3 linked regions of the Homo sapiens genome follow. The protein of the gene in region 1 interacts with the protein of each later gene in a biochemical or structural test. Each region holds a gene or a part of one and is shown in the gene's direction. Other genes may lie near its edges. The genes, in order: FCN1, TLR4 and UMOD.

Region 1 (10,396 bases):
TGTTCCAGAACCTGGTCCCTTGCTAGGCAGTAGAGCTCTGTGTGGGTGACTTGGGTCCAGGCTTATGGTCAACAGAGTGTGAAACCCAGGTTGCTCCCAAGGCACAAACAGGAGCAAGGTGCACCTTGCCTTGAGCCCAAGGTGGGGTGCAGGCCCCTCCCTCAATCCCTCACCTCCATCTGCAGTCACCCCCAGGCTAAATCCATGGCTAGCAATTCTGAGAGCTCCTGGAACCAGAAGGGGTTCAAGGCAGAGTGGGGGAGGGTCAGGACTTAACCACTTGGGGCAAAGATTTCCAGGGAGAATTGTTTAGGTTGCATTTTTCTCAGTGATATGTCTTTGGAATTTTCAGGAGAACGCGGTCTCCCTGGAGCCCCTGGAAAGGCAGGACCAGTGGGGCCCAAAGGTAACCAGGGGACAGACAGCGAGGAGGCCTTGAGCAGGGACCTTGGAGCTGTCTGTAATGAAATGAGGGAGGGAGAGACAGAGACAGAGACACAGACACAGACACAGAGAGACACGGCAACAGAGAGAGAAAGACAGTGGCAGGCGGACAGGGACCCTGGGATATTCCAGGCCTCGGGGCCCCTCCCCACCATTGAGACCTGGGCGTTGTGATGCCTTAGTGAGCCTGCAGGGCTGGGGAGATGCAGTGTCCAGGCCGGGAGCCCACTCTGGACCAGCCTTTCCGTGGCCCACACATCTGGGGTCAAAAGCTCATTATCCTGCCTCTTCCTCCAGGAGACCGAGGAGAGAAGGGGATGCGTGGAGAGAAAGGTGAGCCACCCGTGGGCCCAGGCAGTTGTCTCTGCAGGCTTTGTCCAGGGGAGGGGTCTCAGAGGCCTCAGTCCGCCTGCCCACCGCCCACGTCCCTGTCAATCCAGGCTGTGGGCAGGGAGGGGTGGAAGGAGTCCAGCGGGCTTTGTTGTCAGAATCCACGAGGGCTCAAACCCTGGTGTCTACAGCAGTCACTCCCAGTGGCCAGCAGGACCACATCAGTGCATAGATGGTGACACTTCAATATTTCAATTTCTGTCTTACTTATGCTCATTTATGCAAAAATTGTAAAAGTTTAAAAAAGCCAAATGTGCAAGACTCTAATACACTGTACCACGCTCCACCCACAAACACAAATGAAAACCGGAGCCGGGGGCTGAGGGTCCGCCGATACCTGAGTCCCAAGAAACAGAGGCCAGGGCGGAGGCAGGGCAGGCTTGGAGTGACCCTGCCAGGCTTGAAGAGTTATTCCGCTGTTATCAGTGGCGAAGGCCCCACTAGGGGTCCAGTTCGTCCAGCAGGACCCGCAGCGCCTGCCACAGCCCACCAAGCTCAAGCTGCACAGCAGGGGCCTATGGACAACCATGTGGCTGGTGCCTCTGGGGAAGTCGAGTCTGGCCATCCTTCCCTAGGCCTGTGCCACGTGTCCTGGAGACATCAGAGGAGCTGCCTTTGCCCATTCTCTATTCTGTGCTCAGGGAGCCACTGGGGCTGACCAGGACAAAGGCTCTGATTTCAAGCTTATGACAAGTGTCTCCTCTCCCCACACAGGAGACGCTGGGCAGTCTCAGTCGTGTGCGACAGGTGACTGATCACACCCTGACCTCGGTACCCAAGCCTTGCCCCCACCCCTGGGGCCAGCTGCACACGTTCACGCTACGGAATCTAAGGACAGAACCCTGTCTGCACCTATCATCCCCCCCTCAATCACTCGAGTAATGGGCAGCTATCACCTGAATCCCTTCCATGACAACCTGGGCTCTACTATTATCTACCCTAGAAGGCCGGGTGCCCAGGAGGCAAAGGTGGGGCAGACACTGGGAGGTGGGAGGGTCGGCAGACTGGGTGTGGGCATCACAGCTGCGTGGCCCTGGGGGCCGTGTCCCTGTCCAGGCCTCGGAGTCCTGCTCGGTCCGCACAGAAGCCTGTGGCCCTCCTCCTCCCTCCTGGGCCTCCCTCCCACTGCCCCTGTCCTGCCCAGGGCCCCCGTCCTGCAGCCATTCCCCGGGTTCCCTTCCCAGGCCCACGCAACTGCAAGGACCTGCTAGACCGGGGGTATTTCCTGAGCGGCTGGCACACCATCTACCTGCCCGACTGCCGGCCCCTGACTGTGCTCTGTGACATGGACACGGACGGAGGGGGCTGGACCGTGAGTGTGGGGCTGGGCAGAGGCGGTCAGCCTGGGAGTCCCGGAGGCCAGGCTGCACACCTGGTTGTAGAACACACTCTGGAATTCTCTATTCCCCTGGATGGGGACAATCATAGATGATGGGGGAAGTGACCCGTGGGTAAAAGTCCAGGCCATCGGGGAGGCTGGGAGGGGACCGGTGCTCTCCTGCTGTGTGGCTTGGGGCTTGTTGCCTCTCTTCTCTGAGACCGCATTTCCTCTTTCATCCTGTGGAGTCTGTGAGGAGACCAGATGGGCGTGCGTGTGGCACCGGCCTGTGATGCTCTGCCAACTACAAATGCTGCTCCTCTGGAGGGCGGGTCCCCGGTGCTGTGGGACCTCGGCCTGCCCCGCCTAACTCTGTATCCTGGCTTCTTCACAGGTTTTCCAGCGGAGGATGGATGGCTCTGTGGACTTCTATCGGGACTGGGCCGCATACAAGCAGGGCTTCGGCAGTCAGCTGGGGGAGTTCTGGCTGGGGAATGACAACATCCACGCCCTGACTGCCCAGGGTAGGGCCACTGCCGTGGCTCAGGGGTTGGGGGGCCCTGAGGTGCTCCTGCCCCTTAGGCCTGGGCCATCTGCAACATAAGCACCTCTTGGCCCACAGGGGATTGGGCCCTGAGCACACTCAGGTGGCACTGGGACCTCTAAGGGCTGCGTCCCCTGCCGCAGGCTCTGGCAACATCGGGAAGGGAAACGGTTAGAGCCCTGGGCTGAAGGCCTCTTCAGGTCTTGGTCCTACTGGCATCTTAGATCCTGAGAGTGGGAAGCAGGAGAGAGACCACTGGGGCTTGGGGTAGCCTTCCCCCATCTCCAGCTGTTGATCTGCCTCTGAAGCTGGCATCTTAGTCCCATGGAGAGCCCACGCTCGCCTCCTCCAGCCCACGCCTCAGCAGGCCCCCCACAGCCGCACTCACCTGAGTGAGAGGGCCTCCCCCCAACCCTCTGGGGCAGGGGATGAGTTTCACAGCTGGTCCTGAGGCAGTCTGTATAATTGCTGGTCCATTATCCCTGCCCACTGCCCTGTGGCATGATTGAAGGAATCCACTCAGGTGCCTCAAATTCCTGCAAAAGAAACTACAATTAGAGCTTCGCCCACTGCTGTGTTAGTGGCTCACCAACCCTTAGAAGGAGAAGGTACACTTTCAAAATGAAAGAATGCTCCCTTCCACCCAGTGAACTCCAGTGGGGCATGTTCAGTTCTCTGAAATAACGGGAAAGGTGTTTAGAAACAGAAAGCCATCCCTGAGGGCCTGATAGCAACAAGGGATTTTCTGACATTTCCGGTTGATTTTTTTCCTGGATGCCACGTTCAGACATCCCTTAAGAATATATCCATCCCCAGCCGGGCACCGTGGCTCACACCTGTAATCCCAGCATTTTGGGAGGCTGAGGCTGGTGGATCATGAGGTGAAGAGATCGAGACCATCCTGACCAACATGGTGAAACCCCATCTCTACTAAAAATACAAAAAAAAAAAAAAGTAGCTGTGTGTGGTGGCACACACCTGTAATCCCAGCTACTGGGGAGGCTGAGGCAGGAGAATTGCTTGAACCCAGGAGGCGGAGGTTGCAGTGAGCTGAGATGGTGCCATTGCACTCCAGCCTGGGCAACAAGAGCGGAACTCTGTCTCAAAAAAAAAAAAAAAAAAATTACCCATCCCCAGCCCTCATGCCTGGTGACAGAAAGATCTTAAAGGCTGGGGCCTTAAAATCTTTTTCCAACAGGAAGCAGCGAGCTCCGTGTAGACCTGGTGGACTTTGAGGGCAACCACCAGTTTGCTAAGTACAAATCATTCAAGGTGGCTGACGAGGCAGAGAAGTACAAGCTGGTACTGGGAGCCTTTGTCGGGGGCAGTGCGGGTGAGTGTCTGCTTGGGGCTGGTGGCCTGAGTGGGGCTTGGAAAGCAGAGAGAACCTGGCTCTGTCTCCCCTGGTGACCTTGGGCCCTCCTCTCTCTGAATCCCATTTCTCCATCTATGAAGCAGACACTAGCATTTGTGTCTCTGTACAGCGTGGGGCTCACAGGACATAGCGGCTGGTATTCCTAAGGCTATGTCTGCCGCACAGTGAGCTGCCTGGGCAGGGCTGAGACGACCCACCAGCATCACTGCTGAAACCTGGAAGACGTCGTCCTTTTCTCATGGGTGCCTTGGAGCTGTTTCCCAAACTGTGCTCCATGGAACACCAGCCTTGTGGGACATTCTTTACCAAAAGGAGTCTCTGGCTACACGATCTGGGGAGGCATTTCCTACAGGGCGTCTGCTTAGGGAATTCCCAGTGCACATCGTTCGTGAAAGGCACTGAGAATTGCTGCAGCTGGAAGTCTGTGTAACTAACTGCTCCATGGAGCAAGGCAGTCCCAGGGGAGCCTTGGAAATGACAGCCTTGGAGTCTGTGCAGTCCTTTCACAGGCACGATCTCACGCATGACCTCCAAGGAAGGCAGCAGGGCAGGGAAGGTCACCCCCATTTTGCAGGTGGTAAAACCGAGGCTCAGGGGGTGACATTTCTCAGCTATAGGAGCCAGGGATGAGCTTCCGGCTCAGGGCTTGAGATAGAGGAGAAGCCCCCAGGTGAGGGCTGTCCTGAACCTACCAAGGGCCACCAGGGGACGTGGGGAGAGACCGGAAGGAGCGGCGCAGGCTGGAGGAGGGAGGTCATTCCAGGAGAGAGCAGGAGGCCTGACAGTTTGCGGGAGCCCTGGAGGAAACAGGTGGTTGCTGGAGCAGGGGCCTCAGGTTGTGGAGAGAGATTTCCAGACCAGGTTGCCAGAGGTTGCCTCCTGCTTCCCCTTCCTCCAAGGCCTGGGTGGGTCATTTGTGCACCTGTAGCTCGGCTCATGCGTCGCTAAAGTGAGGTTGGCTCTGCTCAGAGGCAGGATGTGGTGAGGGTCTCACAGTGGCAGGGCTTTTTCCAGCATCTGCAAACCCCACATTTTCTGTGAGCAGGTAATTCTCTAACGGGCCACAACAACAACTTCTTCTCCACCAAAGACCAAGACAATGATGTGAGTTCTTCGAATTGTGCTGAGAAGTTCCAAGGAGCCTGGTGGTACGCCGACTGTCATGCTTCAAACCTCAATGGTCTCTACCTCATGGGACCCCATGAGAGCTATGCCAATGGTATCAACTGGAGTGCGGCGAAGGGGTACAAATATAGCTACAAGGTGTCAGAGATGAAGGTGCGGCCCGCCTAGACGGGCCAGGACCCCTCCACATGCACCTGCTAGTGGGGAGGCCACACCCACAAGCGCTGCGTCGTGGAAGTCACCCCATTTCCCCAGCCAGACACACTCCCATGACGCCCACAGCTGCCCCTTTGCCCCCAGCTCAGTCAAGCCGCCACATGCCCACAACCTCACCAGAGGGAGAATTATGTTTCTAAATATGTTTACTTTGGGACAGAAAAGTTTTACCAGTTTCAATGTGTGTTTCTTGAACACCAGTGGTTTTGATCACTTTCCTGTGTCTGTTGCACGGCAGGTCTTTCCCTGGAATTTGGTAAGTCGGGAAGAGTCAGGACCCTTATTTAGCAGATGGCACTACCGATGTTCAGGGAGGTTGAGTGACTTTTGCGAGGATTTTCCACCTCCAGTAATTGACACAGGGCGATCCTCACCTCCACCCCCAAGCCTCCCCCATCCCCCCATGCCTCACTCACAACACTTCACACTTCTTGAAAAAGGTCACTTTGGGGTCCAGAAAACACTTACTAAAAAGGGGGAAAGTTTAGTAGGAACTTTTCTGCTTCCCACCACGGCAGAGTTCATGCTTTGGGCTGGCTGGCTGCTGGGAAGAGATAAACACTTAGCACTCACTAAGTGAGCGCCTGGTCAGCCACCTGCACAGAGAAGATTCCGAAGAGGCCTTCCTCCCACACACAGACCTCAGCTAGAGGGGACCGCGGACCTCAGTGGGAAAAGCTGCACAAGGCTTCTAGGAGATGATGGAGAAGGGGCTTCTCCAGCTCCCAGGCCAGGGGAGATTTCTCAACCACGACCTAAGAAGCATCAAAGGGAATGTGGCAAGTGTGACTCCATTCAAATCAAGAGCTCCCACTTACCGAAGGACACTAAGGGAACCAAAGGAAGGCCAGAGGGGCAGAATCAACGTGCGGCACACAAATCTTTAGTTTTCTACTATTGCCGCAACCAGTCACCACAAATGGAGTGGCTTGAAACAACAAGAACTCGCCACCTCCTGGCTCAGTAGATCTGGAGTCCCTGGGCCTTACTGGGCCAGCAGGCAGGACTCAGCAGTGGTGGCTCCTTCCAGGGTTCTAGGGGAGAACCTGCTTCCTTGCCTTTTCCAGCCCCAGGGGTCACTGGCATTCATTGGCCCGGACTCCTTCCCCCAACCCCAAAGCCAGCAGCACCACATCTCTCTGACCCTTCATCCGTTGTCCCCTCTCCCCCCAAGCCCCATGGGACAGGGTCTCCACTCCTGAGACTCATGGGATTAGACTAGGCCTACCTGGATGATCTGGGATCCTCTCCCATGTCCAGGTCTCTATCCCTAACCACATCAGCAAAGTCTCTTTTGCCATGGAAGGTATTTGCAGGCTCTGACTTTGTGTGTATTAGGGCAGGACATTTTTGGCGGGGCAGTGGTGGGGGCAGGGAATTATTCTGCCTACCATGCCTTATACAAAAATAAATAAATCACAGGCTTATACCTGAAAGAATTCCTGCAAATAATAAAAGAATTAGAGCAGCTCAGTTAAATAAAAAAAGGTATGAGATGTGAACAGACACTTCACAGAAGATGACATGCAGGGGAGCAAGGTATTTATCAAAAAGTGCTCCACTTTTCACTTACCAGAGAAATGCAAATCAGCACCCAAAGGAGTCACTGCGGCACCCTCATCTGAGCCTCAGAAGTTAGAAAGATGGATAGCACCAGTGTCAAAGGTGACTGTGGGAGGGAGATTTGCATACACTGCTAGTAACAATGCGAATTGATGGAACCAACCTGGAAAATGGCTTGGCATCAACTGTTGGAGAAGAAGACACACAGTCCTCTAACCTGCCAGTCCCACATCAGGGCCTGGATATGGCCGTCATGTGTACCAGGGAGCATGGCCAGGAATCTTTACAGCCAAATACTCACCATAGCACCAAACTGGAATCAGCCGACATACCCATCAGGAAGAGAATGGATGTTAAAAAATGCAAGGATAGCCATTGGGTAGAACGCCATACAGCCATGACAATTACACAGTGACACCTACACACAAGGAGCATGAGTCTCACAAACATGGCAGCAAAAGGAGCCTGTTCAAGAGGGTATGTGCTATGGATTCCATTGTAGATAAAGTTTTTCAAAAGCAAAAGTAGCCAATGGTATTTTGGATGCATATTTAGGTGGTAAATGTATACAGGAAAAATAAGAAAGTGATTGTATTTGAGGGTGGGACCACATGGTGACTGGGAAGGGACAGGGACAAGCCTCTGGGGTTCTGGCAATGCTCTGTTTCTTGACCCAGGTGGTGATTGTAAGGATGTTTGTTAACTAGTGATGAAAATAATTAAGCTGTACTTTTGCTTTATACACTTTTGAGTACATGTTATGTTCCACAATTTAAAAACTACTTATAAAGAAACTGCACATGCTTGGATCCAGGAACATGAGCTACAGGCACATCCTCCACTGATGCCCAGTGTTCTTGACTCAATACCTGTAAGGAGAGGTCCTTGTAGCCCATTGGGGGCTGACCAGACCCTACTACGCCCCTGCCACAATCTCTAGTCCATCACAAAATCCACTATTGGGATAGTACTTTCGTCCCTCAGTAGGTAAGCATTTTTACAACCTAGGAAGACTTAGCTTTAAGTCTAGAAATGATTAGTATAAATATAAAATATAAATATGATTAATATAAATATAAAATAGCCATAGAAATATGCCTTTTAGTTTGTTTTTTGAGACAGAGTTTTACTCTGCCACCCAGGCTGGAGTGCAGTGGCGTGATCTCAGCTCACTGCAATCTCCACCTCCCAGGTTCAAGAGATTCTCATGCTTCAGCCTCCCAAGTAGCTGGGATCACAGGCACACACAACCATGCCCAGCAATTTTTTTGTATTTTTAGTAGAGATGGGGTTTCGCCGTGTTGGCCAGGCTGGTCTTGAACTCCCGACCTCAAGTGATCCACCCGCCTCTGCCTCCCAAATTGCTGAGATTACAGGCGTGAGACACTGTGCCTGGCCAAAATATGCCTTTTGTATTAAGGAATCTGGACAGGTTTGATTTTTCACAGTCTTGTAATGTTTAAATAATTTGGCCTATTATGAAGAATCTCACAAATCCAATATAAAATGTGGAACTAACTAATCAAAATCATCTTGTAATATTACATGGAAATCTTAGTGCGTTTATACACGGTATTGGCATATTTAAGAGACTTTGAGCTCATTGCATTTCTAAGTTAAATTATTAGATTTCTTAAGATTTAAGTTAAATTATTAGATTTTTAAAGATTAATTAGTGCTAAGGAGGGTTTTCTCATTAGACAGCTGAAATGCCGCAGGAGAAATTTGAGTGTATTCCACTTCTTATTGCAATTTTAAATGTTTGAAGTTATTTAAAGAACTAAATTTATGGTATCCAAAAGCTCTAAAAAGGTGACTCTTAAGATTTGCAGGTCTTATAAATAGAAAAACAAGAACTGTAAGCCAAACTTAAAATATTCAGGATGAATTGAGTTTTTGAATTTGTAGCTTTCAGAAACTGAACATTAATTTTAAGAAGCAAAGCAGGCTGGGCACAGTGGCTCACGCCTGTAATCCTAGCACTTTAGGAGGCTGAAGTGGGTGGATCACTTGAGATCAGGAGTTCAAGACCAGCCTGGCCAACATGATGAAACCTCCTCTCTACTAAAAATACAAAACTCCGCCAGAAATCGCTTGATCCCGGGAGGTGGAGGTTGCAGTGAGCTGAGATCGTGCCACTGCACTCCAGCCTGGGGAACAGAGCGAGATTCCGCCTCAAAAAAAAAATAAAAATAAAAAGAAGAAGAAGAAGAAGGAGAAAGAGGGAGAGGGAGAGGGAGAGGGAGAGGGAGAGGGAGAGGGAGAAGAAGAAGAAGAAGAAGAAGAAGAAGAAGAAGAAGAAGAAGAAGAAGAAGAAGAAGAGGAAGAGGAAGAGGAAGAGGAAGAGGAAGAGGAAGAGGAAGAAGAAGAAGAAGAGGAAGAAGAAGAAGAAGCAGCAGCAGCGGCCAGGCGCGGTGGCTCACGCTTGTAATCCCAGCACTTTGGGAGGCCGAGGCGGGCGGATCACAAGGTCAGGAGATCAAGACCATCCTGGCTAACATGATGAAACCCCGTCTCTACTAAAAATACAAAAAAATTAGCCGTTCATGGTGGGGGATGCCTATCGTCCCAGCTACTCGAGAAGCTGAGGCAGGAGAATGGCGTGAACCCAGGAGGCAGAGGTTGAAGTGAGCCGAGATCGCACCACTGCACTCCAGCCTGGGCGACAGAGCGAGACTCTGTCTCAAAATAAAAGAAGCAAAGCAAGCTTATGAAGAGATGAAGAGTCTTTTCCCATCACCAATTCCTCCCCAACTCACATCAGCAGAACTGAGAGAGCTTTTGTGATTTGAGGGATAAAGCTGAATGGGTGAAAAGAAATCAAGCCCTCCTCCTCTTGGGCCAGTGCTCTTCTTCCTGGCCATGGGACCTCTCAAGTAGGAGTGTAGGCGTGGGCCCATCCAGCAACATTTGGGCATTCGTGGACATCCACATAGTGTTGTTTCTGTTCTTTTCCTCTCCTTCCTCATCTTCTCTCGTCTTTGTTGAATATTTTTATTATCCCGTCACCTCCTCTATCAGCTTATAACTTGTTCATTCTTTTCCTATCTTTTGGTGTTTATGCTTGCGATTGCAATATATAGCCTTGATTTTTTACGGTATACTATAAATTATTCCTTCTACCACTTTACCAATGAAGACTTTGAAACACCTCTAACTACATTCACTCCCTTCTGCTTTTTATGCCATTCTTGCCGCCATGCTATGATACATTTATTTAAAGTCCTGCAAGAAATGGCTATTAGTATTGTTTTGTGCAGTCCGTATTCATTTTTACCACATTTTTACACTTTATGTTGCCCTTTATTCCTTCTTCTATTTTATTATTATTATTATTTTTGGTGTGAGATCATCTTCTTGCTGCCTGACAAACTCCCTTTCATATATATTTTTTATTTTTATTTTTTGAAACAGGGTCTCA
Region 2 (10,629 bases), about 17 Mb from region 1:
TAAAAATAAATACAGATATATTGTTCAGAGATGTATTCATCAACTACTTAACTATGTATCTACCCATGCATTTAATAACTGTGAGCATCATACCAGGCCTCCATTCTCATGGAGTTTGTATTCTACTGGTAGAGGCAGATAATAAAGAGATGAGAAATTCAAAGTAATTTAAAAAATAACACAGGAAAGGTCATAGACATTTTGGTCTGGGGAGGAGATGGCACTATGTAGGCTGATTACCTGTGAGGGTGCACTCACTCACCTCTTGTACTTGTGAAGAACATACTGAAATGTACAGGGTGTTTGGGAGGAAAATAATGAGATGCACAGGGCAGTACTTAATGTGAAGACCTCACCATAGAGACAGGAATTAAGTCACCTGGAGCCAAGAGAATACCCTTTATGCCTTTGCTTAAAAGCACCATTTTCTGTACTATATACCACAAGAGCATTGGTCCATGGCACATTAATGGATTCTGGACTGGTAATGGGTGTCCAAGGATAAAAGAGGGTTGAATGGGTCAAAAAGTTGGGAAACATTGAGTACTCTATCTCCTTTCATAGATGCAAAATAAACATTAGTCTAATACATGTTCTAAGGAGTCCTTAGAAAATAAATCTGTTTTTCTCTGTTTAACTATTTGTTTCTTTTACTTACCTGAACAGAGCTTTTTTTTCTTCCTAGTAACAAACTGTTGTTGTATATAAGGTACCACTGATTATAAGGTGTACCATTACTTTATTTGCCACTAAGAAAGAAAAAAAACTCTGCCAATTATAATTGTACTATATTGTCAATTATATGAGAACCATTCTGCTTTGAGAGGTGTTGACATGAAAAAAACATGAAACTTAAAAACTTGAGATGGTTGGATGGAATGAGGTTTGGTTTTTAGATATGTCAGGTTAATGGGACCTTTTTTAAAATCACTATGCAATGGAAATTATAGGATTCTAAGGTTGTGGCATAAATACAACCTGCTGATCAACAGAATTTTGTGTTCCTCTTCCACAGTATAGTATTGGTGCTGTGAAGTGGTGCTCACCATTAAGTGTGTGTGTGTGTTTAAGTTTTGGGTAGGGGGAAGAGCCTTGAAGCTTAGAAGATAGAGATCCCTTGCAACTTGGTATTGTGTTGGGTCTAGTTTTGGTCAAATGCAATGAGAGCAGAGATAATGCATGTCACTTCTGAGCAGAGGTAGTTAAATACATGATATCATCCCCTACTTTCTTCACATTCTGCAGTAAACTTGGAGGCTGCATGTTGAATATGAAAGTATAATGAAATAAAAGAAGCCTAGAACCAGGAATCATACCTGGGGTAATCCAATCAGAAATATCCTCATTGAGTGTTTCATGAGCCAGGAAAACTTTTATTAAGTCACAATAAAATCTGGAAGTTTATACAGCAATTAGCTTAGTCTAACACTTGTCAGTTTTGTGCATATTTCTTACAGCATATGCATTACCTGCCAAATAAAAGCAAACACTTCTAGGTCCCTGGCAAATATGGGATTCCTCCATTGACTGACTGATTATGGGTCCTGAGTTGAACTTGCTCTGCATGAAGGATGTAGGCGATCAAGTGGCTTGTTTTGCCTCTGGCCAAATCTCTACCACTATGCTTAAGATGCGATTAATTATGTACAACAAACCCCCATGACACACGTTTACCTATGTAACAAACCTGCTCATCCTGCACATGTACTTCTGAATGTAAAAATAAAAGTAAAAAAAAAGAAAACAAGAGGTGGTTATTATTCTACTGTGGGAGAAATTATAGGCCTAATGGTAACTAATCACCACGGTCTTACCTCATTATAATACTGCATCGGTAAGTTCATCAACATAAGCAAGTTAGATCTGATAACCAAGGGGCTTACAGTTTCTAATTTGTATTTGACACATGGTCTGCCTTCTGGAAGAGCAACATAGAACCTAGATGTCTTTGATTAAGGTCAGTAAATGATTGAGTGTTAATCCCATTCATTTCCCAGGAAAAGGAAACCTCTTTACAAGTCACCACCAGGGATTCTCCAATCACACATAGGAAAAATTTCCAGGAAGACTTCTATAAAACACATGTATTAACATCTCCGAAAACATAGTTGAAAGGACTTCCCTGGGCCCTTTTCCTTAGTTCCTCATCTAGACTATCAAGCGGTTTCCTCTCCAAATGATGGGAAGAAAGTGCATTTGTCTATTACACACTTGTATTACTCTATTCACTTAAGCACTGTGTCCCAGTAATGGGGTCTAGTTATGTCTGGCTTGAAATGACCCACATATTTGTTTCTCATTCTTAGGAAGTGGAGTGTTTCTGTATGTGTATATGTGATGGGGGTAGGCCAGGAGATTTTTTATCTAGGCAATACCCAGCCTGAAATCATTATTAGCATGACATGAGTTAAACGTATTTCTATTTTAGAAAGATGTTTTCAACAGCAGGATGAAGAATCAATTGGAAGAGCTGGTACATTGAAAGAGGTGAATCTAGACTTTGGGAGGCTTCTTAAAGTATATTGAACTAGTCTAGGCCGTGGGATATGTTCAATAGTAATGGTAGTAGAAATGGCGACTGACATTTTGGAATTATTTTACAGATACAATTTCTACAACTTGGTGGAACATTTTTTAAAATGTAGGTTTTATTATTCGGCTATGGTGAAAACAACAGATCAGAAGATGATGCCACTGGAAATATAGTTTGTTGTTTACAGTTCCTAAGAAGCGGGGGCATGCCACACCATGCAGGGCCACATTGGTAGCACCAGAGTCCGTCAGGAGGCAGAGGGAGCAAGAGGAAATTATAGGCACAAGCTTTTATTGTTGTTACTGCAGAAAAGGCAAGGCAAGGCAGGGTAAGCAGGGATAGGACTGGCTAGTTTGAATAACCTCAGTGGGCTCTGGGGTAGAGGGTCTGTCTCTAGTTGTCTGGTACCTGGACCTGTGATGATTAGGGCTGAATAACGGTGTCTACTTGGGTGTAAAAGCCAGGTAGAGGAGGTGGTTCAGAGGAAGGGCTCTGGATTGCTTAGTGTGCATAAGGCATGCTCCAGAGCAAATCTTTTGCTATTTTTTAGAACTAACTAGCCCTGGTAAGTGCAGTCTCTTCCCAGATGCCAGAACATCAAGAACACAGAAAAGAAGACAATTGGGTTAATACATGTTTAGCATGAGAAATGAGGAAGTAAGGGAAATAAAGTCAAAGAGATTTCCACCTTGGATGACTATGTCAAAGTGAAACACCATTAACTTTCCAGGGAACTAAACTTTATTGAGCACCTACTCTGTGTCAGGCACTGCTCTAAAATCTTTACATGAATAATCTCAATACTCAGAGCAAAGCTTTGACATGGAGGTTGTTTTTATCTTAACTCTACTGGTGTGTTGATGGAGTCTACAAGAGTTTGTGCCCAGTCCACCACAAAATGGTCCCTCACAGCTTGGTTTTTGACACGTTGGATTGGAAGTGCTTGGAGGATATTACAGTAGAACTATCTAGGACTTAGCATGCATAATATTCCTGTTTTAAATCAGGTTCTTATTTAACAGAAACTTACATTGCACTTGCTACTTTCCAGACACTGTCCTAAAAGCTTTACAAATGCCAGTTCATTTAATCCCAATACAATACTTTGAGATACATATTATCATCTTCATTCTATCCACATTTTCAATCCTCATCATAGCTCTCATTTATGGAATGTAATGATGATGCTCTAGACTAGACGTTTTACGTAAGTTAGCTTAATTCAGTAATTCAAAACACATGCGATTATCTTCGTTTTAAAGACCAGAAAACTAAAGGTTGGTAGGTTTGTATAATTTGACTACCATTGCGTATCTTTATTTTAATACATTTTATAAATGCAAGCTTCTGCTATGATTAAAAGTGATTACCACATTTTACAGACCAGAAAGTAATAATAAGTGTTGGTGAAGATGTGAAAAAATGAGAACTCCTGTACACCATTTGTGGGAATGTAAAATGGTACAGATGCTGTGGAGAATCATATGGTGGGTGCTCAAAAAATTAAAAATAGATTTACCACATGATCCAGCAATCTCACTTCTGAGTACGTATCCAAAAGAATTGAAAACAGAGACTTTAAGAGATATTTGTACAACCATGTTTATGGCAGCATTATTCACAATAGCTAACGTGTGGCAACAATGCAAGTGTCCATGAACAGACAAATGGATAAGCAAAATGTGGTCTATACATACAATGGAATATTGTTCAGCTTTAAAAAGGAAGGAGGCTTTGATCTATACTACACAGAAAAGAACCTTGAGGACATTATGCAAAGTGAAATAAGCCAGTGACAAAAAGATACATACTGTATGATTCCACTTCTAAGAGCTGCCTAGAGTAGTCAAGATTATAGAGACAAAAGTAGTGCATAGATTCAAGGGCCTAGGGAAAGGGGAAATGGGGAGTTATTTATTAATGAATAGTGGTGATGATTGTACAAAAATATGAACATAATTAATGCCACTAAATTGTACACATACAAATGGTCAAGATAATAAATTTTATGTTATGTCATGTTATGTTATGTGATTTTACCATAATACAGAAAATGAAAAAAGAAAAGAAAGAAAGTAAAGCTTAGCGGTTTACATGACTTGACCAATGCCTCAAAGCCATGAGTCACCCAGCTGAGATCTGAACTTCAGTATATTCCATTCTGAAATCCCAGACTTTTCCCAATCTTCTTGTACTTTTCAAACTGTGTTTCAGTTGAGGTTTATTTTCAGTTTTGTATGTGAGTTTCTTCACAAGAAGGGGCGGGCCAAATTGTGTCCTGCAAAAACCTACATATCGAAGTCCTAACCCCTCTACCTCAGACTATGACTGTATATGGAGAGAGAGCCTTGAAAGAGGTATGTAAGGTAGAATGAGGTCATTATGGTGGGCCCTAATCCAACATAACTGGTGTCCTTATAAGAAGGGGAGATTAGAATTCAGACACACTTGCTGACACCTTGAGTTCAGACTGGAAGCCTCTAGAATTGTGAGAAAATGAATGTCTGTTGTTTAAGCCACCCAGTCTGTGGTATTTCCTTATGGCAGCCCCAGCAAACTAATACAAATAGTGTTTCCACAGCTGAAACAAAATTGGAAAATCACCGTCATCCTAGAGAGTTACAAGGGCTATTTTAATAGAACCTGATTGTTTTCCTAAATTCACCAAGCCCAGGCAGAGGTCAGATGACTAATTGGGATAAAAGCCAACTAGCTTCCTCTTGCTGTTTCTTTAGCCACTGGTCTGCAGGCGTTTTCTTCTTCTAACTTCCTCTCCTGTGACAAAAGAGATAACTATTAGAGAAACAAAAGTCCAGAATGCTAAGGTTGCCGCTTTCACTTCCTCTCACCCTTTAGCCCAGAACTGCTTTGAATACACCAATTGCTGTGGGGCGGCTCGAGGAAGAGAAGACACCAGTGCCTCAGAAACTGCTCGGTCAGACGGTGATAGCGAGCCACGCATTCACAGGGCCACTGCTGCTCACAGAAGCAGTGAGGATGATGCCAGGATGATGTCTGCCTCGCGCCTGGCTGGGACTCTGATCCCAGCCATGGCCTTCCTCTCCTGCGTGAGACCAGAAAGCTGGGAGCCCTGCGTGGAGGTATGTGGCTGGAGTCAGCTCCTCTGAACTTTCCCTCACTTCTGCCCAGAACTTCTCACTGTGTGCCCTGGTTTGTTTATTTTTGCAAAAAAAAAAAAGAGTTAAATTACCTTAAAGACTCAAGAAGCCACAGAGATCAAATAATTCATTGTTACAGGGCACTAGAGGCAGCCATTGGGGGTTTGTTCCATTTGGAAATTTTGAGTGCTAACAGGGGCATGAGATAACATAGATCTGCTTAAGGTCCCTGCTCTGCTACCTTGTGGCTCTGTGAAGAAATTATCAAACCTGTCTGAGACTAGTTTTCGCATCTGTAAGAGAATTATAATACCTTCTTCACTAGAGAGTAAGCAGACTGCTTCAGTGTCATTTCTTCCCACTGGTGGTCTTTACACTCAGCTTCAAGCAGTCACCCTGCTCCTTTCAATCTCAGGAAAAAGATGGCTTTTGTGTGTGTGTCTCTAGAGAAAGAACTTTCTAAGTGGGTGTCAGACTTCTGTATGCAGTAATATAGTTTAGTCCAGAGGATGAAAAAAATAAGAGAATGAAAAAGGAAAAGAGAGAGAGAGAGAAGAAAAAAGCAAGAGGGAAATATGTATAATGTCAGCTAATGCAACAGTTTCTTTCTTAGTGAAATACCAATCAGCTGGTTGGTAATCTTATTCATGATGGATCTCTTTTGTTTTTCCCCTGCGCAGACTTCACAGTTGCTTTAGAAACCCATAGTAGAGCCGAACAGCTAAGAAAATGATTTACAGTGAGGCAGGGTCAGAAACTCAAGAGAGAAAAAGCCAGCTGCAGTCCTGAAGTTGAGGATATAGGAGAAAATCAAGTAATATTTAGCAAAGACTAATTCATTATCTTGAAGCCATCCCTTCCCTCAATTCCCTGCCCATAGTCCTCCTCCTTGTCCTCTTCTCTGTATCCCTCTGCTGTTAGGTTAATGGAGATAGATTTTCTAATTAGGCTCACTGCGAGATAAAACCACAGCCAAACTTGACTTCTTTTCCCCATGTACCTTTTCCTGTCAGTCCCTGAAGCCTGTCCATCCCTGCCCATCCCCTTAGTTCCACTGTAAGGCAGGCCCTCATTTCCCCTGGCATTGACTCTTACACACTAACTGCTTTCCTGATTCCAGTCTTCTTCCTTTAATTCATTCTGCACGTTCTTGTTTGTTATGTACTTGCATTTGTTGTTATTATTTTTCCTTAGGCTTCAATCTAACAAATTACTCTCCTTAAAAACTTTTAATAACTCTCCATTGCCATTAGAACAGCTTTCTACCACAGGGCCTTTGCACTGGCTATTTCTTCTACCTAGAATGCTAGATCAGTGCTATCCATTGGCAATATTATGTGAGCCACATATGTACTTTTAAAGTTTTTAGTAGCCTCATTAAAAAAAGAAACAAGTGAATTTAATTTCGATAATAGTTTTATTTAACTTAGCGTATTTAAAATAATGTTTAAAATTTTAATATATATTTACCTATTATTGATATTTTTACATTCCTTGTTTGGTACTAAGTCTGGAATTTAGTATATGTTTTACATTTACCACACTTCTCAATTTACACTATTCACATTTCTTGTGTTTGATAACTGTGTATGGCTAGTGACTACCGTATTGGTCAGTGCAGCCCAAGTCCTTTTCATGCTTTAATCACTCCATTCAGATCTCTGATTAAATGTCCCCTCCTCAGGGCAGTCTTCCTTGATTGCCCCATGTAGAGCTCTCCAGCCTCACTTATTTGCCTCAAATCCCCTTATACTGCTTAATATTTTTTTTTCTAGAGCACAACATTTTATATTTTTGTTTGTTTATTTTCTCTCTCTCCCTTTGTAATGGAATCGGTAAGGAGGCAGGATCATTGCTGGTTTTATTTACCACTATATTTCCAGTGGCCAGCACACAGTAGCCGCTAGATGTGTAAGTGATAAATGATTGAAATAATTGCTGCAGGACAAAGTCTGAGGCCCTCCTGATCTGGCTTGCCCTCTTACTTAGATTTCACCACTCCCACCACTCACCAGCTAATCTGAGTTTGTTTTCCACTCTTTACGTGCTCACGTTGTCCTCTCCTTAGGACATGTTTTTCTTCCCCTTTCCACATATCTAAACCTTACTCATCTTCCAAGACCCACTTTAAAATCTTCCTTTTCTGGGAAGCCTTTCCTGAATCCAGACTTGATCTCTGCTTTCTCTGAACCACAGGGCATATTTTCTAAGCCTATTTTATGGCCCCTTGAGATAGTGTTAGCTTTGCTCCTATCTAAACTCTTACTCTAGACTGTGAGTCCATTGAAGTCTGGAGCTGCATCATATTTTTCTTTGTAATGCCCACAGCACTTGGCAGGAAATGCCTACAATTTGGACTTAAGTAAACCTTCATTTAATCAGTTATTCAATCAGTTAGTGATTCAGCAAATATTTATTGAGCACCAACCATTTGCCAGACACCATTCTGAGTGCTGGAGACAAAGCAGTGGGCAAACCCATCAAACTTGCAATGGAATACAGGAGATGAACAATACGATGAGAACAATCAGATAGACAACATAATGTTAGATGGTTGTGCTTCCCGTGAAAGGGAATAAAAGAGGGCAAAGAAAGAGTGCCTGGCACTGTTTCTATTAGACAATATTGTCTTTGAGGCTCCATGGCTTGCAACATTTAAGCAGACATACGAATGAAGATCTGCATGTTTGAACTCTGACTTTGCGCATATTACTTCATTTCTTTGAATTTCCATTTTCCTCATCTTTAAATGCTTATTTGAAGATTAAGTGAAAGTATATAACAAACAAGAACTATGCAGGCATATGGTAAGGGATTAATGATAGATGATAATAATTAATGTTGACATCTATTGATCACTTATACTGTAGCGGGCTTTTAAATAAACTCTTTAAACACCTTATCTCATTTAATCCTTCAAACATTCTATTGGTTTCAAACAACAGAAAACTACAATTAGCTGGCTTCTGCAAGGAATTTTGTTGGAGGAAATGAGAGCATTCAGAAATTAGATGGGAGCGTTAGAGAATTAGGCTTACAAAGAATGTGGGAAAGTAGGCTAGAAAGCAGTGTAAAAACAAAGACAGCATAAAGCACTTGACCTTATTTACTAGGTTCCACCATGGGAATCCATGCACTCTAAAGATTTCCCCCTATTTCTACATCACTTTGCTCAAGGGTCAATGAGCCAAGAAAAAGAATGCAGTTGTCAAAATCTGGGCCATGACTAAGGAAGGTCTGGACATCTTGACTGCCAGACAGTCTCCCCAATGATATGGAGTATTTAAAATGATACTGGATATTTTATTTATTTTTTGTATTTTCAACTTTTAAGTTCAGAGGCACATGTGCAGAGCATGCAGGTTTATTACATAAGTAAATGTGTGCCATGGTGATTTGCTGCATAGATCATGAAAATATGGAACGCATCATGGATTTGTGTGTCATCCTTGTGCAGGGGCCATGCTCATCTTCTCTGTATCCTTCCAATTTTAGTGTATGTGCTACTGCAGCAAGCACGATATTGGATATTTTATTACCTACATTTTACATATGATAAAATGAGGCTCACTGAGGTTTTTCTTTTGTTCGTTTTATTTTGTTTTGTTTTTAAAGACTTGGCCCTAAACCACACAGAAGAGCTGGCATGAAACCCAGAGCTTTCAGACTCCGGAGCCTCAGCCCTTCACCCCGATTCCATTGCTTCTTGCTAAATGCTGCCGTTTTATCACGGAGGTTAGAATGCTGAGCACGTAGTAGGTGCTCTTTACTTTCTAATCTAGAGTAAGACAATTTATAAGCATGAATTGAGTGAATGGATGGATGGATATATGGATGGAAGGATGGACAGATGGATGAAAGGTTGACTGAATTTTGTGCTTGCACAAAAAGAGGCCCCTCTCCACCATCTCTGGTCTAGGAGAGGGGAGTTGGGAGACCATGCAGTAAAGATACTTCATGTCATGTGTAATCATTGCAGGTGGTTCCTAATATTACTTATCAATGCATGGAGCTGAATTTCTACAAAATCCCCGACAACCTCCCCTTCTCAACCAAGAACCTGGACCTGAGCTTTAATCCCCTGAGGCATTTAGGCAGCTATAGCTTCTTCAGTTTCCCAGAACTGCAGGTGCTGGATTTATCCAGGTAATGAATCCACTTTTACATACTGCACAAGGTGAGGTGTTCATTGTCCTGTCATTTCATTATTGGACTGGAAAGCTTGGTTTGTGGAGTCTCATCTTCATTCACTTATTCATTCATACAACAGATGTCTTATTAACTATATAACCTTGAGCAAGCTACCTCTATTCTCCAGGTCTCAGTTTTCTAATCTGTGAAGTAGGCAGTTGGCTGAGACAGCTTCTAAGGGCAATTCTAATTTTAGGTTTTCTTTTAAGACAGGAGAGAAAATTAGCTTAAATTCTTTCATAAGCAGCTATTTATTGACTACTTGCTATATGTTGTACACTCTGCAAGAAGACAGGCATATATTGATATATAACACACAGCCCCTGTTGTTAAGGAGGCATATCTTCTTGAAAGAGTTAATACCTTAAAGTCCTGGGTATGGTCCTGGGTACATAGTATATAGTCAACACATTTTAATTATGATTTTTTGGATCTGGAAACTGATATAAAGATAGCGACATATAACAGTAGGTGATAAATTATGTTTAAACTAAAGGTAACTAATTGTATTTTTCAGAAGAGGGGCCTTCTCTGTGGTGGGTAGTCAAGAAAGATTTCATGAACTGCATAAGATTCAAACAATGTCTAGAATATTAAAACTAGTGTACAGGATAGGGAATTAGGAAAAGACAAGTAACCCAAGGAGAAAGATGTCAAGATTAAAGGAAAACATCTGCTGTGGGCAGGGAATAATGGCTAAGATTTTCTTTTCTGATGCAGGGAAGTATATCGTTTGTTGTGGCAGGTGAAATGTCATCTTGATATTTTAGGGGAACCAAATTCTAA
Region 3 (10,396 bases), on another chromosome or scaffold:
GGCATCCACCCTGGACTATTTTTCCAATTGGAAGAAATAGTAAGTGACCACTCCAGAAACATTTAAATGCATTGTGAAGGTTAATTACCTCTCAAGTTGCTCGTCTCAAGCCACTTCTTTACGATATGTGAGTTGCATGAAGGAGCAGACTGCCATGTTCATTGTTCTCCATGGTGACTAGCTCCCTGTTTGGCACAATGTAGCTACTCAATAGATGTTTGTTGAATGAATAAGTGATCCAGGCAAATTGAAAGTTTCCAGGCAGAGGATCAGTTAAAATCCAAAGCTGCCTTCAGTAAAGTGGTGAGTCCAGAACACTATTCCATCTGGCTACTTCCTGCTCCAAATGACTGAGTTCTTCAAAATGTGCAATGTGCTGAGAATTGGGGAGCCAAGACTGGGATGTTGGTGAGGTAAGGAGGGGGAGTACAAGGGGTAAAGTCCCAGCAAAACAAGGGCTGCAGTGTTATGCAATTTTTTAGTCCATATAAGTGACACCTCCTGGAGTTGTATACTATACAATCAAAGCACTCCTTCCAGCTGTGGGGAGGAGAGTTAGATCATGCATTTGTCCCATCCATCTCTGTTCACAGGACACCAGACATCAGAGACAGAGAGAAAAATTCAAAGGGCCAACCCGTCTTTCCTTTGGGCAGGTGCTATCTAGACCTGAAGTAGCGGGAAGAGCAGAAAGGATGGGGCAGCCATCTCTGACTTGGATGCTGATGGTGGTGGTGGCCTCTTGGTTCATCACAACTGCAGCCACTGACACCTCAGAAGCAAGTAAGTGAAAAGTGTGTGTGCGTTGTATATGTGTGTATGCACGTGTATGTGTGAATGTGTGGGGGAAGCAATGTAGCACCTGTCAGAGGTGATCTCAATCCTCCTATCGCACTTGAGACTTGCATTGTCTTCATTCTAAGTCCATTTCTTAGACTCAATATGCACAGGACTGACTTAGAAATTTTGCTAAAGTGCATATTCTGGTTCAGCAGATCTGCAGTAGGACCTGAGATGCTGAATTTTTAACAAGCTTCCAGGCGATGCTCATACTGGGGTCCCTGGAGTACACATTGAAAAGCAAGGGGCTAGAACATCTCTAAGGCCTGCAGGCCCTTTATTGGAAGTCAGAAACATACTCTATCACATAGGAGATTTGAACCCATGCAGGAGGATCCAAACACCTTCCCTTTCAACTTTAAGAGGTCATTCCATTGGGTTGAGATTTGCTGTCACCCCACTTTCATTTTCTCCCTGGAGTACGTTGGGGCACGATGAATACTATTGCGGTGTCCTGGTTAAAAGCACATATTTTGTGGTCCTGCCATCTGCGTTTTTATCCTGGTTCTACTTCTTACCAAAGGAGTAAGGGGCTTAATCCCTCTGAACCTCAGTCTCCTCATCTTTAAAATAAGGATACATAAAAAACTGACCTCACGAGGCCCTTGGGAAGTATTCAACAAGATAGTGAGTGAAAAGTGCACATCCTATTGCCTGGCATATAGTAATTGCTTAATAAACAACAGCTTCTTTTTTTTTTTAATGGTTATTTTTATTACGGAGGAACAAAGTACAACTGCCCAGCCAGGTGGAGTTGGAGGACTCCGCAGAGAGGAGGCGACACTGAGCAGGGTCCTGATGAAGATTTCACCAGCCAGGGAAGCAGAAAACATAAAATGTGCAAAGAAAGGGAGGGGCAACAGGTTCACCGTAAATCCTACCAAAGTATAGGAATTCTGCGCATTACTTTTCTGAATGTGGCTATTTTAAAAGAAGACAGCTTGAAAGCAATGCTTAACACAAAAAATGAATGGTGGAGCTGGGCGCGATTGCACGTGCCTGTGGTCCCAACTTTTTGGGAAGCTGAGGCAGGGTGCGGTGGTGGCTTGAACTCAGGGAGTAGAACGCTTGAACCCAGGAATTGGAGGCTATGGTGAGCTATGATCGCACTACTGCACTCCAGCCTGGGCGACAGAGCAAGACCCCTCTCCAAAAAAATAAATAAAGTTAAAAAATACAATGAAATAAACACAGAATGAACGGTGGAGGCTTGACATCATCAGAGGAGTTTTGTTTCTTTGCTTCTTTCCTTGTTTTGGAGGGAGCCCTCTAGGGAATAAGTCTTAAAAATAATGAGTTCCCTGGAGAATGAGGGAAGGATCTCTGGGTGGCCATGGGCCCAGCTGCCCAAACCCTGAAGCTGGGCTTTTCTGTCCACAGGATGGTGCTCTGAATGTCACAGCAATGCCACCTGCACGGAGGATGAGGCCGTTACGACGTGCACCTGTCAGGAGGGCTTCACCGGCGATGGCCTGACCTGCGTGGACCTGGATGAGTGCGCCATTCCTGGAGCTCACAACTGCTCCGCCAACAGCAGCTGCGTAAACACGCCAGGCTCCTTCTCCTGCGTCTGCCCCGAAGGCTTCCGCCTGTCGCCCGGTCTCGGCTGCACAGACGTGGATGAGTGCGCTGAGCCTGGGCTTAGCCACTGCCACGCCCTGGCCACATGTGTCAATGTGGTGGGCAGCTACTTGTGCGTATGCCCCGCGGGCTACCGGGGGGATGGATGGCACTGTGAGTGCTCCCCGGGCTCCTGCGGGCCGGGGTTGGACTGCGTGCCCGAGGGCGACGCGCTCGTGTGCGCGGATCCGTGCCAGGCGCACCGCACCCTGGACGAGTACTGGCGCAGCACCGAGTACGGGGAGGGCTACGCCTGCGACACGGACCTGCGCGGCTGGTACCGCTTCGTGGGCCAGGGCGGTGCGCGCATGGCCGAGACCTGCGTGCCAGTCCTGCGCTGCAACACGGCCGCCCCCATGTGGCTCAATGGCACGCATCCGTCCAGCGACGAGGGCATCGTGAGCCGCAAGGCCTGCGCGCACTGGAGCGGCCACTGCTGCCTGTGGGATGCGTCCGTCCAGGTGAAGGCCTGTGCCGGCGGCTACTACGTCTACAACCTGACAGCGCCCCCCGAGTGTCACCTGGCGTACTGCACAGGTCAGCCGGAGTCTCCCCACAGTCCTCATCCCAGGCCTGGAAAGGCACTGCAGAGGACGGGGGTGCGTCCTTATTGATTGTCTGTCTGTCCCTGTGACCCTGCAGACCCCAGCTCCGTGGAGGGGACGTGTGAGGAGTGCAGTATAGACGAGGACTGCAAATCGAATAATGGCAGATGGCACTGCCAGTGCAAACAGGACTTCAACATCACTGGTGAGGCCAGTGGGGAGGAAGCGGGTTGTTGAGAAACCTGTCACTGCCTGGGGGAGGGACACATTCCTCCCCTGTGAGATTGGGGCCATATGGGTATGACGCAGGGGATATATATCCAACCTGAGTGAAAACAGAAGATCCACTAATACCCATTAAAGCCGGCAAGAGGCTCTCTGAGGCTCCCTGAGTCTCCCTTTAGTTGACTTCAAAGCTGCCAAAGATTTGGGGACCTCCTCGCACCCAGCCTTCTTTCTGAGGCCCACACCACAGTGGGCACCCACGTTGCTGCCATCTGGGAGCCAAAGACCATCTGAGCCCTATTCCTGCAGCACCAGAACACAAGCCCGGCCCGGTGAGCAGTCCACCAATCAGCTCAGGCCTGATGACCAGTCCACCAATCAGCTCAGTACTCCGGGCCAGGCACAAGCCTCAGATTTCTCATAGGTACAATTATTGAAGATGAAAATAGTATTTTCAGACTTCAGTCATGATTTTAGTTACATCCAAGTGCCAACTTTACAATTGGCACCCTGGTTCACTTGCTTTATCCAAGTGTTACCTGTGCCATGACTTTTATTAAGTTGTTTTTCTTCTAATGGACTGAATCTCTTAAGCAAATTTGGAATGTTGATGGTCAGGACTTCATCTGTCTGTGGCAAGTTATGCTTACCTTAGACAGAAAGTTAACTGTAAAAATAAAAGTTACTAAAAAGAAAAGAAGGTTACTAAATTTCAGCAGTTGTGTAATACTTCCATAAAACAAATTTTAAAAAATAAATACTAAAAATTAGAAAAATACTTCAATTTTTAAAAAATTAAACAAGAATTCTGGCTGGATGTTGTTTCCTGCCCCAAACTCTCAGCCCGAGGCCTGCTCTCTGTTTGAGAGGGAAGTTAGTGGGCCGGGCGCAGTGGCTCATGCCTGTAATCCCAGCACTTTGGGAGGCCGCAGCGGGCAGATCACCTGAGGTCAGGAGTTCAAGACCAGCCTGGCCAACATGGCAAAATCCCATCTCTACTAAAAATACAAAAACTAGGTGAGTCTGGTGGCAGGTGCCTGTAATTCCAGCTACTCGGGAGGCTGAGGCAGGAGAATCACTTGAACCCAGGATGCGGAGGTTGCAGTGAGCCAAGATGGCACCTCTGCATTCCAGCCTGGGCTTGTCGCCGAAGAGAGAAACTCCGTCTCAAAAAAAAGAGAGAGAGAGGGAAGTTAGTGAGTACATGGCATTAAAGACATTAGTGGCAAGCTGGGACTGTCTCCTTGATGTGAAAAGGGTAGAAAGTAATTGCAGCTTGCTTGCTTTTTCTTTCTTTCTTTCTTTCTTTCTTTCTTTCTCTCTTTCTTTTTTTTATTATACTTCACGTTCTAGGGTACATGTGCACAACGTGCAGGTTTGTTACATATGTATACATATGTAACTTGCATCATCTCCTTTGGCTACTATTACTACTGTGGGAGATGCGTATTCTCATTTTATAGACAAGGAAATTGACCTCTGGACCTCAAGTAATCTGTCTGCCTTGGCCTCCCAAAGTGCTAGGATTATAGGCATGAGCCACCGCATCTAGCCTTTTTATTTTTTTAAACGAGTATTCATTGTTATTTAATGCTGGGACATCAAAACCCCCCAAAACCGTCCTGCATTTGGTATATAACCCACATTTAGGGGAACCCAAGACTGAGTGGTTGGTCAGTGGATGTATCCATTGATGTCAGAGGTCCAATCTTGAGTCCCCATCACATTGGGAGGGGACAGATCAGCTCAAGGCTATGCTGAGCACTTCCAGATGGTGGTCAGCCCAGCCAGCTGGACCTGGCCCCTGGGGATGTGCTGGGCCCCCAAGCTATAGACACACGTCCTCAATCCCACCTAACCTGTTTCAGATATCTCCCTCCTGGAGCACAGGCTGGAATGTGGGGCCAATGACATGAAGGTGTCGCTGGGCAAGTGCCAGCTGAAGAGTCTGGGCTTCGACAAGGTCTTCATGTACCTGAGTGACAGCCGGTGCTCGGGCTTCAATGACAGAGACAACCGGGACTGGGTGTCTGTAGTGACCCCAGCCCGGGATGGCCCCTGTGGGACAGTGTTGACGGTACGTCCTGGCCAGTGGGGGACAGAACCAGAGCACTGCCTGGTTCAAGCTTCAGCTCTATCACTTCCTAGTTATAGAAGCTTTGGGGAGTTATTTAGCCTGGCTGTGCCTCAGTTTCATCAACTGTAAAGTGGAGAAATAATAGTACCTACTCCACAGGTGTATTGAGAGGATTGAATGAGTTAATGTGTTGAAGTGATTAGGACAGTGACTGCACACAGTAAGTGCTCAATAAACATCAGCTTCAAATAAAGAAAGCAATTCATGGTGATAGTTCTCCATTTTACAGATGGGAAAAGTAGGGCCATAGTAGGGATTGTCTCAGCCAGTAGGCATCAGCATTGGGTTCAGAAACTAGTCTATTTGTCTCCAGTGGTCCTGGAAGGCAAGGTCTGTATCCTTAATGTACAGAGAATCAGGACCTCACCTACAGAGGCCTCCTCAAATGAAACCCAGAGGTAAATGTTTGTGTGAGCAGAGCATTATCTCCTGCCACCTCCCTCATTACCAGAGGAAGAAAGAAAGAGAAAGAGAGGAAGAAAGAAAGAGAAGGAAGGAAAGAAAGAAAGAAAGAGAAAAAGAGAGAGAGGGAAGGAAGGAAGGAAGGAAGGAAGGAAGGAAGGGAGGGAGGGAGGGAGGGAGGGAAGGAAGGAAGGAAGGAAGGAAAGAAAGGAAGAAAGGAAGAAAGAAAGAAAGAGAAAGAAAGAAAGAAAGAAAGAAAGAAAAAAAAAGAAAAGAAAGGAAGGAAGGAAGAAAGGAAGAAAGAAGGAAAGAAGAAAGAAAGAAAGAAAGAAAAAGAAAGATTTAATGTTGGCCGGGCATGGTGGCTCACGCCTGTAATCCCAGCACTTTGGGGGGCCGAGGCGGGTGGATAACTTGAGGTCAGGAGTTTGAGACCAGCCTGGCCAACACAGAGAAACCCCTTCTCTACTAAAAATACAAAAATTTGCTGGACCTGTTGGTGGGCACCTGTAATCCCAGCTACTCGGGAGGCTGAGGCAGGAGAATCACTTGAACCCAGGAAGCAGAGGTTGCAGTGAGCCGAGATTGCACCACTGCACTCCAGCCTGGGTGACAGAGTGAGACTCTGTCCCAAAACAAACAAACAAAAAGAAATAATTCATGTCATTTTCCAAGGATGGCATTTGAAATTCCATTGATGGTGACTTGGCATATGGTTTTCAGTTTTCAAGAGAGGAAGCACGGGGTGCTGAAAACAGTCTAGTCTTGTGAGATGTCACATATTGTGGGCAATCCCTCAGTGACTCTGTTACTATGAATCTCTGTCTTCTTGTCTGGGAAGCAGGGATGTGGCAGCGCCACTTGTTAGGGTCACTGAAGGAACTAATGCTATGACTCAGGAGGGGTATTCCACTCGGGGTCTGGCACATGACATATGCGCATGAATGGTCATTGCTGTTGTAACTTTTTTTTTCTAATTTATAAAGAAAAGATGATTAATTGGCTCGTTGTTCAGGCTGCACAGGGAGTTTTTAACTGTTGTGGGATTTTTTTTTTTTTTTTTGAGATGGAATCTCCCTGTCGCCGAGGCTAAAGTGCAGTGGCACGATCTTGGCTCATTGCAAGCTCTGCCTCCCGGGTTCAAGCGATTCTCCTGTCTCAGCCTCCCGAGTAGTTGGGATTACAGGCACCCACCACCACGCCCGGCTACTTTTTGTATTTTTAGTAGAGACAGGGTTTCACCATATTGGACAGGCTGGTCTCGAACTCCTGACCTCAGGTGATCCGCCTGCCTCGGCCTCCCAAAGTGCTGGGATTACAAGCGTGAGCTAATGCGCCCGGCCACAGGCAGCTTTTTATCAAGGAGACTAGGAGAGCGGCTCACAAGTAGCCAGACATGAGACCAGCAGATTTAGCTTTGAAGTCCTACTCAGATTCTCATGCCCCTTTCTCTCATCCCCACCCCCCCTCCACCCCCATTCCCTGCAACAGAGGAATGAAACCCATGCCACTTACAGCAACACCCTCTACCTGGCAGATGAGATCATCATCCGTGACCTCAACATCAAAATCAACTTTGCATGCTCCTACCCCCTGGACATGAAAGTCAGCCTGAAGACCGCCCTACAGCCAATGGTCAGGTGTGGCCAGAGAGGGTCCCTAGGGCCCCTAGATGGTTCTAACCCCAAACCCCTTAACCATGAGCTTCCCTGTCAACTGCCACCCACAGGGAGCTGGGAGTGAGGGCTGGGAATCAGGGTTGCCCAATGGAAGAGCCAGGAATTCTGGAGCCCAGGTTCAAATCTAGACTTTGTCATAAATGATGGTTATGCCCTGGCCAGTGGGGGACAGAGTCAAAGCACTGCCTGGTTCAAGCCCCAGCTCTGTCACTTACTAGTTGTATGAGCTTGAGTGAGTTATTAAGCCTGGCTTTGGGAAATTGATAGTCCCTCTCTAGGTGTCAATATTTTCATCTGTGAAATGGGTTTAATAGTACTCTAAGAATTAAATGATATGGGAGGATCGCTTGAGCCCAGGAATTTGAGGCTGCTTAGAGCTATGATTGTGATGTGAATCAGATTCAACCATTAAACTGATGTAGATGATTCAGATGTGAATCAAATATTAAAGTCTCTACTTTTCAAAGAGGCAGGGTGGTTGTGCCAGAGAGCAGGAATGGTCTCAGTCCAGACTGCTATGGAATGCTGGGCAAATCATATTTCATATTTGGACCTCAACTTCTTTCCTTCTCTGTGAATGAAAGGAATTTGATTAAAGAGGATTTTAAAAATTACGCTCCTTGCAAGTGTCTTGGTAGGGGCCAAGGGAGGTGCCCTGGCAGAGTGCCTACAGGGGTAAACTATTCATACTGGGTGCCACGTAGTATTTTATTTTATTTTTTTTAAAAGGAATCTGTTGCTAAATAAAATTGAAAATCTTCAAATAGGATGAATCACAGGCCAATGATGGAAAATTATAGTTGTAATAAGAAATAAGATTTATTGATTATTTATTTATTTATTTATTTATTTATTGAGACGGAGTCTCGTACTGTCGCCCAGGCTGGAGTTCAATGGCATGATCTTGGCTCACTTCAACCTCCGCCTCCCAGGTTCCAGTGATTCTCCTGCCTCAGCCTCCCAAGCAGCTAGGATTATAGGTGCCCACCACCACACCCAGCTAAGTTTTGTATTTTTAGTAGAGACGGGGTTTCACCATGTTGGCCAGGCTGGTCTCAAACTCCTGACCTCAGGCAATCCACCCACCTCGGCCTCCCAAAGTGCTGGGATTATAGGTGTGAGCCACCGTGCCCTGCCAAGAACTAAGATTTATTGAGAGCTTACTATATCTCAGGCATTATAGCCAGTGTTCTGCCTGGAACATCTCATCAAACTCTTACAGCAGCCCTAGGAGATAAAGGTATCATTATTATTACTATTCCCATTATACTGATGTGGAAATTGAGGCTCACAGAAGTTTGAGTGACTTACCCAAAGCTGTAAAGTCTAGCAAGTGATAGAGCTGGGATTCAGACATCAGGTCCAGAGCCTCCACTTGACCATGACCTTCCCTTCGAAGCTTGCCCATGGTTTTCTGCTCTCTTGGCCAGCCAGACTCAGGAAAGGATGCTGGGCACTGATGAGGGTGCACAGCTGACTTGGAGGAAGAAGAGTGCTCATTGCAAGCTGTTGGCTGGAACCTCACCTGGCCTAGCAGTGTCCTGGAGCAATGTGGCCCCGTCCTCGGCCTGGTAGGCTCTGGGGAACAACAAGTGTGCCCACATCTCTCTGTTTTATGGTTTTGTTTTGTTACGAATCCAGGTCTCACTCTGTCACCCAGGCTGGAGTGCAGTGGCACAATCATAGCTCAATGCAGCCTCAAATTCCTGGTCTCAAGCAATCCTCCCACCTCAGTCTCCCAGGTGGCTAGGACTACAGACACATGCCACCACACCACCCTGGGCTATTTTTAAAAATATTTTTATAGAGACAGGGTCTTGTTACATGGACCAGGCTAGTCTTAAACTCCTGGCCTCAAATGATCCTCCTGCGTATGCCTCCTAAAGTATTGGGATTACAGGCGTGAGCCACAGCACCTGGTCCCTCTCTCTGTCTCGAGTTAGACATCTCACCCCAGTCTTCACTGATAACTCAGTTCTCATCTGTAAAATGGACTTCCACATTTCGGAGTATTTCTCATGTGCCTTATTTCATGAGGCATCAGCCTTACAATGTCCTTTGTTGGATCATCCAGTGAAGTTCACATCAGTGTGGCTGTTTTCAGTGTGGTTAAAAATAACTCATTTATAAACCTCAATCTTCTGATATAGATGTTAGTACATCACGATGGAGGCCAGGACGCAAGTTGTAGGCCTCATCATAGCTCAATACCTTTTAACCTGTTCTAGATTGAGACCAAAGAAGGAATCCAGGTGTTCCTGTCAATAATTTGTTTTTTTGCCATCTTGAAAGCTACAGGGGTAGCAAAGCCTATAGCAGTAGCAAGTGAGGGACTGGATGTGTTACTTGAGATGTGATTGATCCATAGACCAGCAGCATCAGCAGCATCCAGGCACTTGTCAGAAATGCAGGACCTTGAGCCCCACCCCAATACTCACCAAATCAGAGCCTGCATTTTATCTAGATCCCAAGTTGACCTGCGTGTACTTATTGCGGTTTGCAAAGCAACAGTTGGTGGGTTCCACTCTTATTGCTGGATAAAAATGCAAATAACTGCAAGGGACTGCCTAGGAATGCAAATCAGAGAAGGTGGCCTATCTGCAGATGTTCTCAGCCCGGTCCTCTCACCAACCCTTCTCCCCTGGCAGTGCTCTAAACATCAGAGTGGGCGGGACCGGCATGTTCACCGTGCGGATGGCGCTCTTCCAGACCCCTTCCTACACGCAGCCCTACCAAGGCTCCTCCGTGACACTGTCCACTGAGGCTTTTCTCTACGTGGGCACCATGTTGGATGGGGGCGACCTGTCCCGATTTGCACTGCTCATGACCAACTGCTATGCCACACCCAGTAGCAATGCCACGGACCCCCTGAAGTACTTCATCATCCAGGACAGGTAAGGCAAAGGTTCCTACATGGGAACTCATGGGTAGAATTCAGAGGGGGTCTT

What was found.
Region 2: the proteins of FCN1 (region 1) and TLR4 form a complex in vitro, tested with the Homo sapiens proteins (one study listed by IntAct).
Region 3: the proteins of FCN1 (region 1) and UMOD form a complex in vitro, tested with the Homo sapiens proteins (one study listed by IntAct).

The regions. Positions count from the first base shown.
Region 1 is NC_000009.12:134,904,766-134,915,161, reverse strand, and holds part of FCN1 (ficolin-1 precursor), read left to right. Parts: intron 1-352; coding exon 353-406; intron 407-741; coding exon 742-777; intron 778-1,548; coding exon 1,549-1,581; intron 1,582-2,018; coding exon 2,019-2,146; intron 2,147-2,546; coding exon 2,547-2,676; intron 2,677-3,894; coding exon 3,895-4,029; intron 4,030-5,116; coding exon 5,117-5,364; 3' UTR 5,365-10,396.
Region 2 is NC_000009.12:117,698,932-117,709,560, forward strand, and holds the start of TLR4 (toll-like receptor 4 isoform A precursor), read left to right. Parts: upstream 1-5,471; 5' UTR 5,472-5,541; coding exon 5,542-5,634; intron 5,635-9,267; exon of another isoform or gene 9,268-9,387; intron 9,388-9,631; coding exon 9,632-9,798; intron 9,799-10,629.
Region 3 is NC_000016.10:20,341,037-20,351,432, reverse strand, and holds part of UMOD (uromodulin isoform a preproprotein), read left to right. Parts: intron 1-254; exon of another isoform or gene 255-413; intron 414-593; 5' UTR 594-695; coding exon 696-783; intron 784-1,563; coding exon of another isoform or gene 1,564-1,662; intron 1,663-2,220; coding exon 2,221-2,997; intron 2,998-3,102; coding exon 3,103-3,210; intron 3,211-5,098; coding exon 5,099-5,307; intron 5,308-7,260; coding exon 7,261-7,409; coding exon of another isoform or gene 7,410-7,512; exon of another isoform or gene 7,513-8,062; intron 8,063-8,878; coding exon of another isoform or gene 8,879-9,019; intron 9,020-10,096; coding exon 10,097-10,342; intron 10,343-10,396.